3 linked regions of the Homo sapiens genome follow. The protein of the gene in region 1 interacts with the protein of each later gene in a pairwise test. Each region holds a gene or a part of one and is shown on either strand. Other genes may lie near its edges.

Region 1 (3,819 bases):
TCCTAGAAACAACTGCTCTTAAGACAACCTAGCGTTTTGGAAAATGCAGCTCTGGGTGGCACCTTTCGAAGCAATAAAACATACGGCAAAATTTAAGAGGAAACAAAGAGGATTAAATACATATTTGTATTCTCAATTAAAAAAACTACGGTTCTATCATCTTAATTATGGAGTTAAACGTTAAAGAAACAAGTTTGATATCATGCCACTTTTCGTTATACTTCGAGAACGGAATGCAATAATGGTTAGTAAGAAGGAAGTAAAATGCCTGTATCAGAAGTAACAGCCCAAACCTGCTGACCAAAAATATTAACTGGGAACTAAACACCACGGTGCAGATCTCCGACATAGAAACCTGGACAGGAACACGTTTTAGGTTAGGTTTTCCAGCGTGTAAATCGGGACTCCAACACGTTTCAGCGTCCACAGCCCAATCTGACACCTTCCCTCGCACCCATCCACCACGCAATAATTTTCCTTCTGATGTGAACACGTCAAAAGTCACCTCGGGCCCCCAACTGCCCCAGATTGCTCCCGATCGCTGCAGACGCCCGGCACCCGCAGGAACTTCCCTGGCCCGGGCCGCCCGCGGCGCAGAGCATCCCGCGCGGACACTGCGCCCTCGGAAGGACACGCAGGACCGTCCAGGGCGCAGACTCGTCCCCAACGCAGTCTCCACTCCCGTGGCACAGCGTCCCCTCCCAAGGCAGCCTCCCCTGCCCGGGCCCAGCCTCATCCCGGGCGCAGCCTGCCGTCCCCCGGCGCAGCGTCCCATGCCGGGCGGAGCGTCTCCCCAGGGACATAGCCTACCGTCCCCAGGCGCAGCCTTGTTGCCAACGCAGCCTCCCGTTCCCCGGCGCAACCTTGTACCCGGGGCAGCCTCTGGTCCCCGGGCGCAGCCTCGTCCCCAGCGCAGCCTCCGATCTCCAGGGCACACCGTCCCCTCCCCAAAACGCAGTCTCGGTCCCCAGGGCGCAGCCTCGTCCCGGCGCACCTGCCCTCCCCGCGGCGCAGCGCGGCGCATCCCACGCGGACTCGGCGCCCTCGGGAGGGGACGCGGGGCCGCCCGGGCGCAGCTTCCTCCGGGAGCCGAGCGCCGGAGCAGACGGGCGACCCAGGAGGGTGGGTGCGAGGCGGTGCCGCGGCACCCTCGCTTCTCCGCGGGCGCCCTCCGCTCCCGGGACGGCCCGCAGCTCCGGCCCCACCACCAGTCCCTGCCCGGCGCTTACATAAACGCCGCCACCGCGGGGTCCGGAGCCCGCGCCCGCCCGAGCCGCCGCGGCCCCGCGCCGCCCTCACCTCAGCCGCAGCCGCGCCGCGCCTGGTCCTCCGCACGCGCGCCCCACGCTTCGGCCGCAGTCTCGCGCCGGGCGGCGCTCTGCCTCGTTGGTTGTGCGCAGCGGCGCGGCGTGGCCGTGGCCTCGCGCGGCCCGGAGCCCCGGCCGCCAACCTGGCCGCTTGGCCGCCGCTGCCGCCGCCGCCGCCGCCGCCGCCACGGCCGCCTCAGCGCCTCAGCCCCGCCGCCGGCGGCTCCGCCCCCTCCCCGCCCCCGCCGGCCCGCCGGGCGCGCGCACGCCGAGGGGGCGGGGGCGGCGCAGCGACGCCGGACGTGCGCGCGCTGGGGCGCCCGTGTCTGTCGTGGGCAGCCGGAGCTGTGGCACCTCCCTCACGACCACCTGCGGCGGACGGGCGCGGGGCCGTTGGGGCTGGAGCGCGGCCGGAGCTGAGAGACCGCGGCTGGGCGGCTCCGGAGCGTGGGGCGAGAGCGCGGGACCGGCCTGGCGTCGCGGCGCCGCCCGCCCGAGCGCGGCTGAGGAGACTCTGCCCGCCTTCGTTTTGGGGACGGGGTCTCACTGTCGCCCAGACTGGAGCGCGGTGGACCTCCGAGCTCACGCGATCCTGCCGCCTCAGCCTCCCTGGTAGCTGGGACCGCAGGCGCCCGGCGATTGGCGTTTGCGTTTTGCGGAGGTGGCGTCTCGCGGTGCTGCCCAGGCTCCCGGGCCCCCGCGCTCCTCCCTGCAGCGGGCGCTGCCCCCGCCGAGCCCCCGCCGAGCCCCCGCCGAGCCCCCGCCGAGCCCCCGCCGAGCCCCCGCCGAGCCCCCGCCGAGCCACCCCTGCTTCTCCCTCTCCCGGAGTTGCCTGGGACACGCGGGTCCCGCCGGCCCCCTCTCCCCGCCCGTCATCCTCACTGTAGACTCCGGGAGAACCAGGTCGCGGCCCAGGACCCTGGCTGGACACGGTTCCCGCCGTCTCCTGTTTAGTCCGCACTGACACTAGCAGCTGCTCCAGTTACCAACGTTTAGGTGATGGTGGTTTTGTTTGATTTTTTTTGTTTGTTTGTTTGTTTTAGGTTGATAGTAAAAGCATTTTTTTATAGCATATGCAATAGACCTACTCTTCGATTTATCTATATTTACTGACTGTTCCACAGTTATACCAAGAAATGTTTACACAGATGATGATAAGCATATGTAGAAATGCAACGTTTTCACTGACCGGAATAACCAGCTCCAGGCTGCAGTTCTCTGCACGAAGATAAAGTTTGATAGGCAAACTTGGCAGCTCCTGACCGCGGCGACCTGAGCCCAGAGGAGCAGCCGGGGGCGGTGGGCAGAGCCAGGTGTGGACAAGCGGGTGGGTCCCGCACCTGGGTGGGGGAAGCGGCAGGTTCCAGGGTCAAATTGAGGTTGTACTAGCCCTGGCCTCCAAACCTCAGGCGGCCCACTCTGCCCTCGGCCTCTTTCCTCCCTTGTAAAGTGGGGAGTAAGAGACCATCGCAAGCCAGGGATGGGGTGGCGCACACTGTGATCTCAGCCAGTCTGGAGGCTGGGGCTGGGCGGTGGGGGGGTGCGGGTCGCTTGTGTCTCAGAGCTGGAGCTGTGGTGTGCGAGGCCGAGGTCCGCGCCTATAAATGGCCGCTGCGCTCTGGCCCGGGCAACACTGAGACTCCGACTCTGGAAAACAACAAAACTTAAAAGACGAACACAGATGGAAGTTTGGGAGCCTGGTATGCGGTAAGCACTCCGCAGGTGTCAGCCGCCAGCCCGCAGTCCCGGACAGGTCAGGGGAAGGCCCGCGGTATGCAGCAGGCTGCCGGCTTCAGTCACTGCCTGGTGGAAAACAAGCCTGTCTTTGGGGCCAGCCAGCTAACAAGTGAGCCCTTCACCCCATCTGAAGGCGAAGCACCCAAAGGGGCAACCGTGGACGGCTAAATAAAAATCAAGACTCCTGGGACGCCTTCTCGGGACACATTCTTAAAGAGATACGTGCCTGAGGACGTTGTGTGTATTTCTGTGTAACAGGCCACCCCAAACCTCAGAGGGCGAAAACCTCTCTTCACTGCTCATGACTCTGTGGGCCTGCAGCTTAAGCCGGTTCAGCTGGGACGGCTTGCCTCGGCTCCATGGGGTGTCTGCTGGGCCCACTTACAGGCAGGCGCCCCGGGCAGATCCGGGCCACATGTCACCCACCCACCGCAGGCTGGCCGGGCCTCCCTCCCGTGGTGGCTGGGCTCCGTCGGCAGCAAGAAAAAGCAAATCCCCATGGTGCTTCCCTCCATCTCCCCAGGAGGGTGAGATGGCCGGGGCCTGAGTGGACGTGAGGCACCGCACAGGGGACGGGCACGGCAAGCATGGTTCATCGGGGCTGTCACTGCAGAAGTCTTCCACAGGCCTTCGCTGAGGTGCGGGTTGGTGTGGGGAATACAAGGGAACTCCCCAGAATGGAGGCTGCTTGTGCAAGTTTCAACTTGTCCTTTTTCTCCCTCCAGAGCAGCAGAGAGCGGATGGCGCCCAAGGCCGGGACCCTCTGCTGCTCCCA
Region 2 (3,600 bases), on another chromosome or scaffold:
TAGTGTTCAATAAATGTTAGCTATTGTTATTATCTATCATTTATTGCGTGCTTACTGGGGGCAGGGTATAAATTATCTCCATGTTTATAGTTTTTATTGAGGACTGATGAGCTGAGGGAGTGGGAAGTCTGGAATGACTCCTAGATTTTGCCAAGCACCTCTGCTCCCTCACAGTACTGTGTTCTGGTACCAAGCATAATGCCCTTCCTCTTCTTCTTCTTTTTCTTTTTTTCCCGAGAGGGAGTCTTGCTCTGTCACCCAGGCTGGAGTGCGGTGGCACCATCTCAGCACACTGCAACCTCCGCCTCCGCGTTTAAGCAATTCTTCTGCCTCAGCCTCCCTGAGTAGCTGGGATTACAGGCGCGTGCCACCACATCCGGCTAATTTTTGTATTTTTAGTAGAGATGGAGTTTTACCTTGTAGGTCAGGCCGGTCTCGATCTCCTGACCTCGTGATCCGCCCACCTCGGCCTCCCAAAGTGCTGGGATTACAGGCATGAGCCACCGCGCCTGGCCCCTTCCTCTTCTTTTAACATGTTGTATTTTCAAATGGGTTTTTTTCTCAAGGAGCCCTCCCGCTGGGCCTCAGTCTGGGTCCTCAGTCTGAATCGGCCTTCACTGCTTTGAGGCACAGGTCACATTCTACCGCCACGCATCACAAGCTCTCCCTTTGCCTCTGGGGCAGGACGGTGTCCGTCTTTTCAGAATGTCCACATCTAACCCAGGGCAGAATCCTACGATATCACCACAGCGCCACACCAATCAGGGTGGCACCTCTCCACTCTGCTTTCCTCAGCACTCAAGAGTATGGGATATCCCCGGGGTAGGACCAGATCCTACAACTTCAGAAAGTCATGGATGAGGCCGGCCGGGCGCCGTGGCTCACGCCTGTAATCCCAGAACTTTGGGAGGCGGAGGCGGGCGGATCACGAGGTCAGGAGATCGAGACCATCCTGGCTAACACCATGAAACCCCGTCTCTACTAAAAATACAAAAAATTAGCCGGGCGTGGTGGCGGGCACCTGTAGTCCCAGCTGCTCGGGAGGCTGAGGCAGGAGAATGACGTGAACCAGGTAAGCGGACCGTGCAGTGAGCCGAGATCGCGCCACTGCACTCCAGCCTGGGCGACAGAGTGAGACTCCGCCTCAAAAAAAAAAAAAAAGAAAGTCATGGATGAAAGGGTCCTTAGTTTATTATCCTGTGAAATAGTAGCTGGGACATTTCTGAGGCCCAGAGAAGGGAAATAACTTGAATGAACAGGTTGGGAGCAGGCCAGGCGATGTGGCGGGCACCTGTAGTCCCAACTCGGGAGGCTGAGATCAGAGGATCGCTTGAGCCCAGAACTCAGTGAATAGCCACTGCACTCCAGCCTGGGCAACACAGCGAGACCTCGACTCAAAAAACAAAAATAGAAACAAACAACTAGCTTAGGCGCAGAACTGAGACTCAAACCTAGGTTTCCTGCTCAACCCCCACACCTCCCAGGCCCCCGCTGACACCCTCAGGCTGTTCCTCGTGGTTGCTAACTTGGAACGGCCCCAAAGCCAGGTCGAAGGCGAGTCTCCCCGCCCTGGGGACTCCTGGCGCTGCAGTTCGCACGGCGGATGGACGCAGTCAGGTTCTCCAGGGAGCTGCGAGGAGCCCCAGGACTTGGAAAAACCCCAGAGCGCGCCCCTGGGGGAAGGGGAGCTCGGGACCTCGAGGCGGCTGGAAGTCGAGGGCATCGCCAGGGGGCCGAGTTGGGCCCGGGTGTGGAGAACGAAGCCGAACGCTGGGCTCTGGATTCTCCTCCAGAGCGCTCCGCCGGCCTAAGCACGGCCGCCCCACCCCCGGCCCGCCAGGCGCAGTCGGCCCCGCCCCCTGGAGCTCCGTTCCCCCGGCAGCCAGCGCCGCGGACCCGCGCGCAGTCGGCCGATCCTCCCGCCGAGCGAGCGGCGTCGTAGCCGCCGCGCTCGCCGAGGCCCTGCGTTGCGGGCTCCCGGCCGCCGGCGAAAGCATGGCCCGGCCCGTGCAGCTGGCGCCGGGCTCGCTGGCGCTAGTGCTGTGCCGGCTGGAGGCGCAGAAGGCGGCGGGGGCCGCGGAGGAGCCTGGTGGGCGCGCGGTGTTCCGCGCTTTCCGTCGCGCCAACGCGCGCTGCTTCTGGAACGCGCGGCTGGCGCGCGCCGCCTCGCGGCTGGCCTTCCAGGGCTGGCTGCGGCGGGGGGTGCTGCTGGTGCGCGCGCCCCCCGCCTGCCTGCAGGTGCTGCGCGATGCCTGGCGGCGCCGGGCCCTGCGGCCGCCGCGCGGCTTCCGCATCAGGGCGGTGGGTGAGTGCGGGACCCGGAGGGGAGGGGCGTCCCGGCCCGTGCAGCTGGCGCCGGGCTCGCTGGCGCTAGTGCTGTGCCGGCTGGAGGCGCAGAAGGCGGCGGGGGCCGCGGAGGAGCCTGGTGGGCGCGCGGTGTTCCGCGCTTTCCGTCGCGCCAACGCGCGCTGCTTCTGGAACGCGCGGCTGGCGCGCGCCGCCTCGCGGCTGGCCTTCCAGGGCTGGCTGCGGCGGGGGGTGCTGCTGGTGCGCGCGCCCCCCGCCTGCCTGCAGGTGCTGCGCGATGCCTGGCGGCGCCGGGCCCTGCGGCCGCCGCGCGGCTTCCGCATCAGGGCGGTGGGTGAGTGCGGGACCCGGAGGGGAGGGGCGTCCCGCGCCAGCTGTGAGCGCGGAGCTCCGCGCTGCAGGGGCGAGCGCGGCCCCGTCTTCTGCCACAGAGGCTAGGCGCTGCTCTGAGGGCCCGGGGGCTGCGGTTGGGCGGCCGGTCCGGGGGGCCAAGACGCCCCGGAGACGTTCCCTCCCGCTAGGACACTGCAGCTATAGTCCCCAAGGTGTGCCTGGCCGCTGCTAGTACTGGCTCCGGGCTGAGTCCGTTCCTCAACTCTTAAAGCCCGTGGAGTGCACAGAAGGAACTTTCTGCTTAGAAAAGTGATGCTCTGGATAGAGAGGCTTTGGGCTAGGGGCCACTGTCTAGGCTCCACCGGGGCGGTTAGGAAGGGTACCCCAGGGGAATGGCCAGAGTTTACCATATCTGGCAGCTTTATTATTATTATTTTTTGAACTACAGATCTGCAGCGAACGGCATTCTGGTTTTCATGTTCTGCAGTGTGGTGGTCTTGGGTCGGGACCTAGCAGCTTTGGGGTCGTTAACTTCTTGGGGAAAACAAGTAGCGTCTCATCCCTTTAGCTGAATAGACAGGATTCCACCTTCCCAGTCTTTTCAAACTTAACTGTTTGTTAGACAACAGCAGCTTTTTGCCTTTTTTCATAAAATAGCTTCTCATTTGAGAAACTAAACCACCGCACCCGTGAGTGGTCTCTGACTCTGGGCACTAAACCCAGGCAGGTGTGTCAGCTCCCTGTAACAACCTTGTTCTTGTCTGCATTTATGTGAGGCTGCAAGGGCCATTTGATGGTGTGTTGACAAGTCACCAGTTGTTCCGCGCTTAATTTTCATTCTTACCAAGGAACCCCTCTGTATTAGTCCATAAATCATCCTCTTCCATCCGAGGAGAAGGAGTCGCAAATAAAAAACATTTGTTTGGCCAGGCGCGGTGGCGCTCGCCTGTAATCCCAGCA
Region 3 (3,819 bases), on another chromosome or scaffold:
TTTTGTAAGTAGTATCAAGAGATCTGTTCCTCTTCCTCCTAATTCTTATGGAGTCTGGAATCTAGGGTTACCTCTTCCTTAGATTGGGTGACACTTCAGATTAGTATGGAACATTTCTTTGTACTTAGCTGATTAAGTTCAAAGCTAAGTGGTCATTTCACATAGGCAGCTTAACTTAATTGTGATTTGAATTTAAGTGCTTTCTGATGTAAGACAGAATCCTTATCTCTTGTATAGCAATTTATAACTTAGAAAGTTGACCTCGTATATTTTACCTATGCAGTCAGAAGGTAGGAAAAGAATGATCCTTTCATTCCACAAAAGGAAGTTGCAGTTTGCTGAGAGGATCAGTAGTTTGCCCAAGATGAAATGGCTGGTAGATGGCCAGGTTGGAATTTAGTCCCAGGCCAGGGAATGGTTTCTTTGACTCTCTGAGTCTTGTGACCTGGGCTTTTGGTTTTAGCAGCCAGGTGCCTGTTATTACAATCAACTTGGAAGGGGGTTGTAAGTAGTGATGTGCTGGAACATGTTTAACAACCAGCTCTTCTTCGGGGAGGGTGGTTTGGTGGAATGAGCTGAATATGTATGTTATAGATATATACATGGGTGTTATATACATGTGTGTTATAAATTTTACTGACACAAAGGATGTGTGTTATAAATTATACTGACATATATGTGTGTTTTATAAATTTTACTGACAGAAAGGATGTGTAGTACAATTTATAAATAATATACACTTTATTGTAAATTTCATACATATTTCAGTGTGACAGTTACCAACGATAGTGTTATAAAATCAGACAGCACATAATGGTTTATTACTATCCAGTTCAGCAAAGGTGTTGCTCATGTCACTGACAAATACATACTGTAGATTTGAGATTTTGGTTGTAGCATGAATACTGGTTGAGATACATTTTTTTTGGGGTAGAGGGGAATGGAGTCAACTTGCTCTGTTGTCCAGGCTGCAGGGCAGTGGTGTGATCTCGGCTCACTGCAACCTCTGCCTCCCAGGTTCAAGTGATTCTCCTGCCTCAGCCTCCCGAGTAGCTGGGATTCACGGGTGCCCACCATCACGCCCAGCTACTTTTTGTATTTTTAGTAGAGATGGGGTTTCACCATGTTGGCCAGACTGGTCTCGAACTCCTGACCTCAGGTGATCCACCCACCTCAGCCTCCCAAAGTGCTGGGATTACAGGCGTGAGCCACCACGCCCGGCTGGTTGATGTTTTTTATTTATGTTAATAGGTAAGATGAAAGTAAAACAGGCTGGGCTTGATGGCTTACGCCTGTAATCCCAGCATGACGGATCACTTGAGGTCAGGGGTTCGAGACCAGCCTGACCAACATGGTGAACCCTCATTTCTGCTAAAAATAGAAAAGTTAGCCAGGCATGGTGGCACACGCCTGTAATCCCAGCTACTCGGGTGGCTGAGGCAGGAGAATCGCTTGAACCTGGGAAGTGGAGGTTGCAGTGAGCTGAGATCATGCCATTGCACTCCATCCTGGGTGAAGAAGTGAGACCCTGTCTATCCCAAAAAAGAAAAAAGAAAAAGTGAAACAATGAAGACATGTAACATCACTCATTTGTAAATGATATGAGTGGCTTCTCTGCAAAATTAGATAATTTTCAAAGACGGGAAGATATTTCAGTTTTTTGTGCTAGTTACAATGTAATGGCTGCAGACTTCTCATGCTTTTAAGATTAACCTGCTTTATTAACCTTTTCATCATTGTAGGTTTAGAGTTAGACAATAAACAGCTTATGATCTTTGATACGTAGCATTTGTATATTTCTGTGGTATAAATAGTCCCACCATGGCTGATTTCAAGCTCTCAAAGTGATACTTCCAATGGCAATGCTGGGAATAGATGTACAGTAGTTCACCATCACAGACTGTTTCCATTGTACAAATGCAATAGCTGGGCAGACCCTCAGAACACAGATGATTATAAAATGCAGTCAAAAATTACCTCTGTTAAAATAATTATCAGCTTATATAATTAAATGTTTAATACTGGCTGTGTTTAACAGCCAGCTTCCCAAACTCCTGACTATTTAATAATTAGCTCTCAGAGACAAGGAGGCCAGGTTCGGGGCACTGCTGTTATCTTGCTTCTGACCATAGTTGGTTATTTTGCTGACACACCAATTCCTGCCTGGTTGTTATTCTGAAGGTTTAAGCACTGGTCTGTGTTTTGACTTCTTTGTGCAGGTGAAGGTTGGAAACCACACTGCAGAAGGAACGGGCACCAACAAGAAGGTGGCCAAGCGCAATGCAGCCGAGAACATGCTGGAGATCCTTGGTTTCAAAGTCCCGCAGGCGCAGCCCACCAAACCCGCACTCAAGTCAGAGGAGAAGGTGAGTGCTGTGGGCTCTCTGATTGCAAGATGGTCTCTCGCCTCACCCTAGGGAACTGGGGCACCTCCAGGGGCAGGCTTCAAGGCAAGGCTTTATCTGCCTGACAGTTCAAGGAGTCCTGCTGAGGAGTGTCTCATCCATTTGGACCATAATGTGCTCAGAGGGGCCTCGCATGTCCACTGGCCCCAGGAGGCTCTGGGTTAGATCGTTGATTGTGTCAGTATCTTTGTGGTCTGGGGACGCTTTGTGGAGGGCAGCTTGCTCCTCTCTATTTGTAGGATGAGGATGAAGGGTAATTAGGACTGAAATTACTAAGTGTGATTTGCACTCTAGAAATGAAGCCTGTGTGAAAGATTTATAACTGTTAGGCTTTCGTTAATTGTGGAATAGGCTTTGATTTTTCTGGCAAAATAAGACAGTGTGACAGTAGAGACAGGCCAAATCCAAAGTTTAGGTTTGGGATTTCTTTTTTCCTATGTGAGTTAAACATCAGATGAAAATAATCCCCTGTTGAAAAATTCACGGCCAGGTGTGGTGGCTCAAACTTGTAATTTGGGAGGCTGAGGCCTTGAATCCAGGAGTTCAAGACCAGTCTGAGCAACATGATGAAACCCTGTCTCTACAAAAAATTAAAATATCAGCCAGGTATGGTGGCTTGTACCTGTAGCCCGAGCTACAAGGCTGAGATGGGAGGATTGAGCCTTGGAAGGTCAAGGCTGCAGTGAGCTGTGATCATGCCACTGCACTCAGCCTGGGCGACAGACCCTGTCTCAACAACAACAAAAAAGGAACGTAAAAAGAAAAATTCGTGTCTGCCAGAAGTGGTAAGCAGGACCTCAGCAAAAGCCATGGCTGACCTTCTTCTTTCCCATCACTGAATGGTCCTGGTGAGATAAACTTGAAATCAGGCCTGATTCATTCATGTCTGCCAGTCATATTGACAGAAACAGCATCAGTCATGGCCAGTTAATAACTGACTGGGACCCCAGATACCACCAGTATAGATCTTAGACTTGGCTTTAGGGTTTTTCATTTCAGAATCTTGTAGGACATTCAGAGTGTCCTTTGTTACTTCTTAGAAAGGTGATGTTGTGTTAGACAAAATTCTTAGGTAATAACATTTTCCCCGTAAGGGTGTTAATTTTGGAATGTCACCTTATTTTTTAATTGGATATCAGCTCCAGGAAATATTCTTGATTTATTTGTTTAGCTTCAGTCTGAAAGCTTCTTTCCCCACCTTGGTGGGCTCTACCGTCTAGCATCTCTGCTCTTTCTGGTTAAATGCTTCCCGTCTTCCTGTGGGTGCAGAGTGCAGCTCAGCATTCACAGGTTAGTGCACTTTGTTAGATGCTCTTTGTGGGCAGGGGTGTGGGCAGGAGGGTGCATTAGGAGAAGGAGGCAGGCTCTGCCCAGGTGTCTGTCAGGGTGCCAGTGGTCAGGTGGGGCAGGGTTT

What was found.
Region 2: the proteins of ADARB1 (region 1) and STOX1 interact in binary tests that used the Homo sapiens proteins (3 or more experiments, as listed by UniProt).
Region 3: the proteins of ADARB1 (region 1) and STAU1 interact in binary tests that used the Homo sapiens proteins (3 or more experiments, as listed by UniProt).

Annotation. Positions count from the first base shown.
Region 1 is NC_000021.9:45,072,274-45,076,092, reverse strand, and holds the start of ADARB1 (double-stranded RNA-specific editase 1), read right to left. Parts: upstream 1,514-3,819; 5' UTR 1,300-1,513; intron 1,043-1,299; exon of another isoform or gene 995-1,042; intron 1-994. UniProt on the Homo sapiens protein: Catalyzes the hydrolytic deamination of adenosine to inosine in double-stranded RNA (dsRNA) referred to as A-to-I RNA editing.
Region 2 is NC_000010.11:68,825,629-68,829,228, forward strand, and holds the start of STOX1 (storkhead-box protein 1), read left to right. Parts: upstream 1-1,902; 5' UTR 1,903-1,995; coding exon 1,996-2,305; intron 2,306-2,348; exon of another isoform or gene 2,349-2,641; intron 2,642-3,600.
Region 3 is NC_000020.11:49,118,529-49,122,347, reverse strand, and holds part of STAU1 (double-stranded RNA-binding protein Staufen homolog 1), read left to right. Parts: intron 1-2,219; coding exon 2,220-2,366; intron 2,367-3,819. UniProt on the Homo sapiens protein: Binds double-stranded RNA (regardless of the sequence) and tubulin.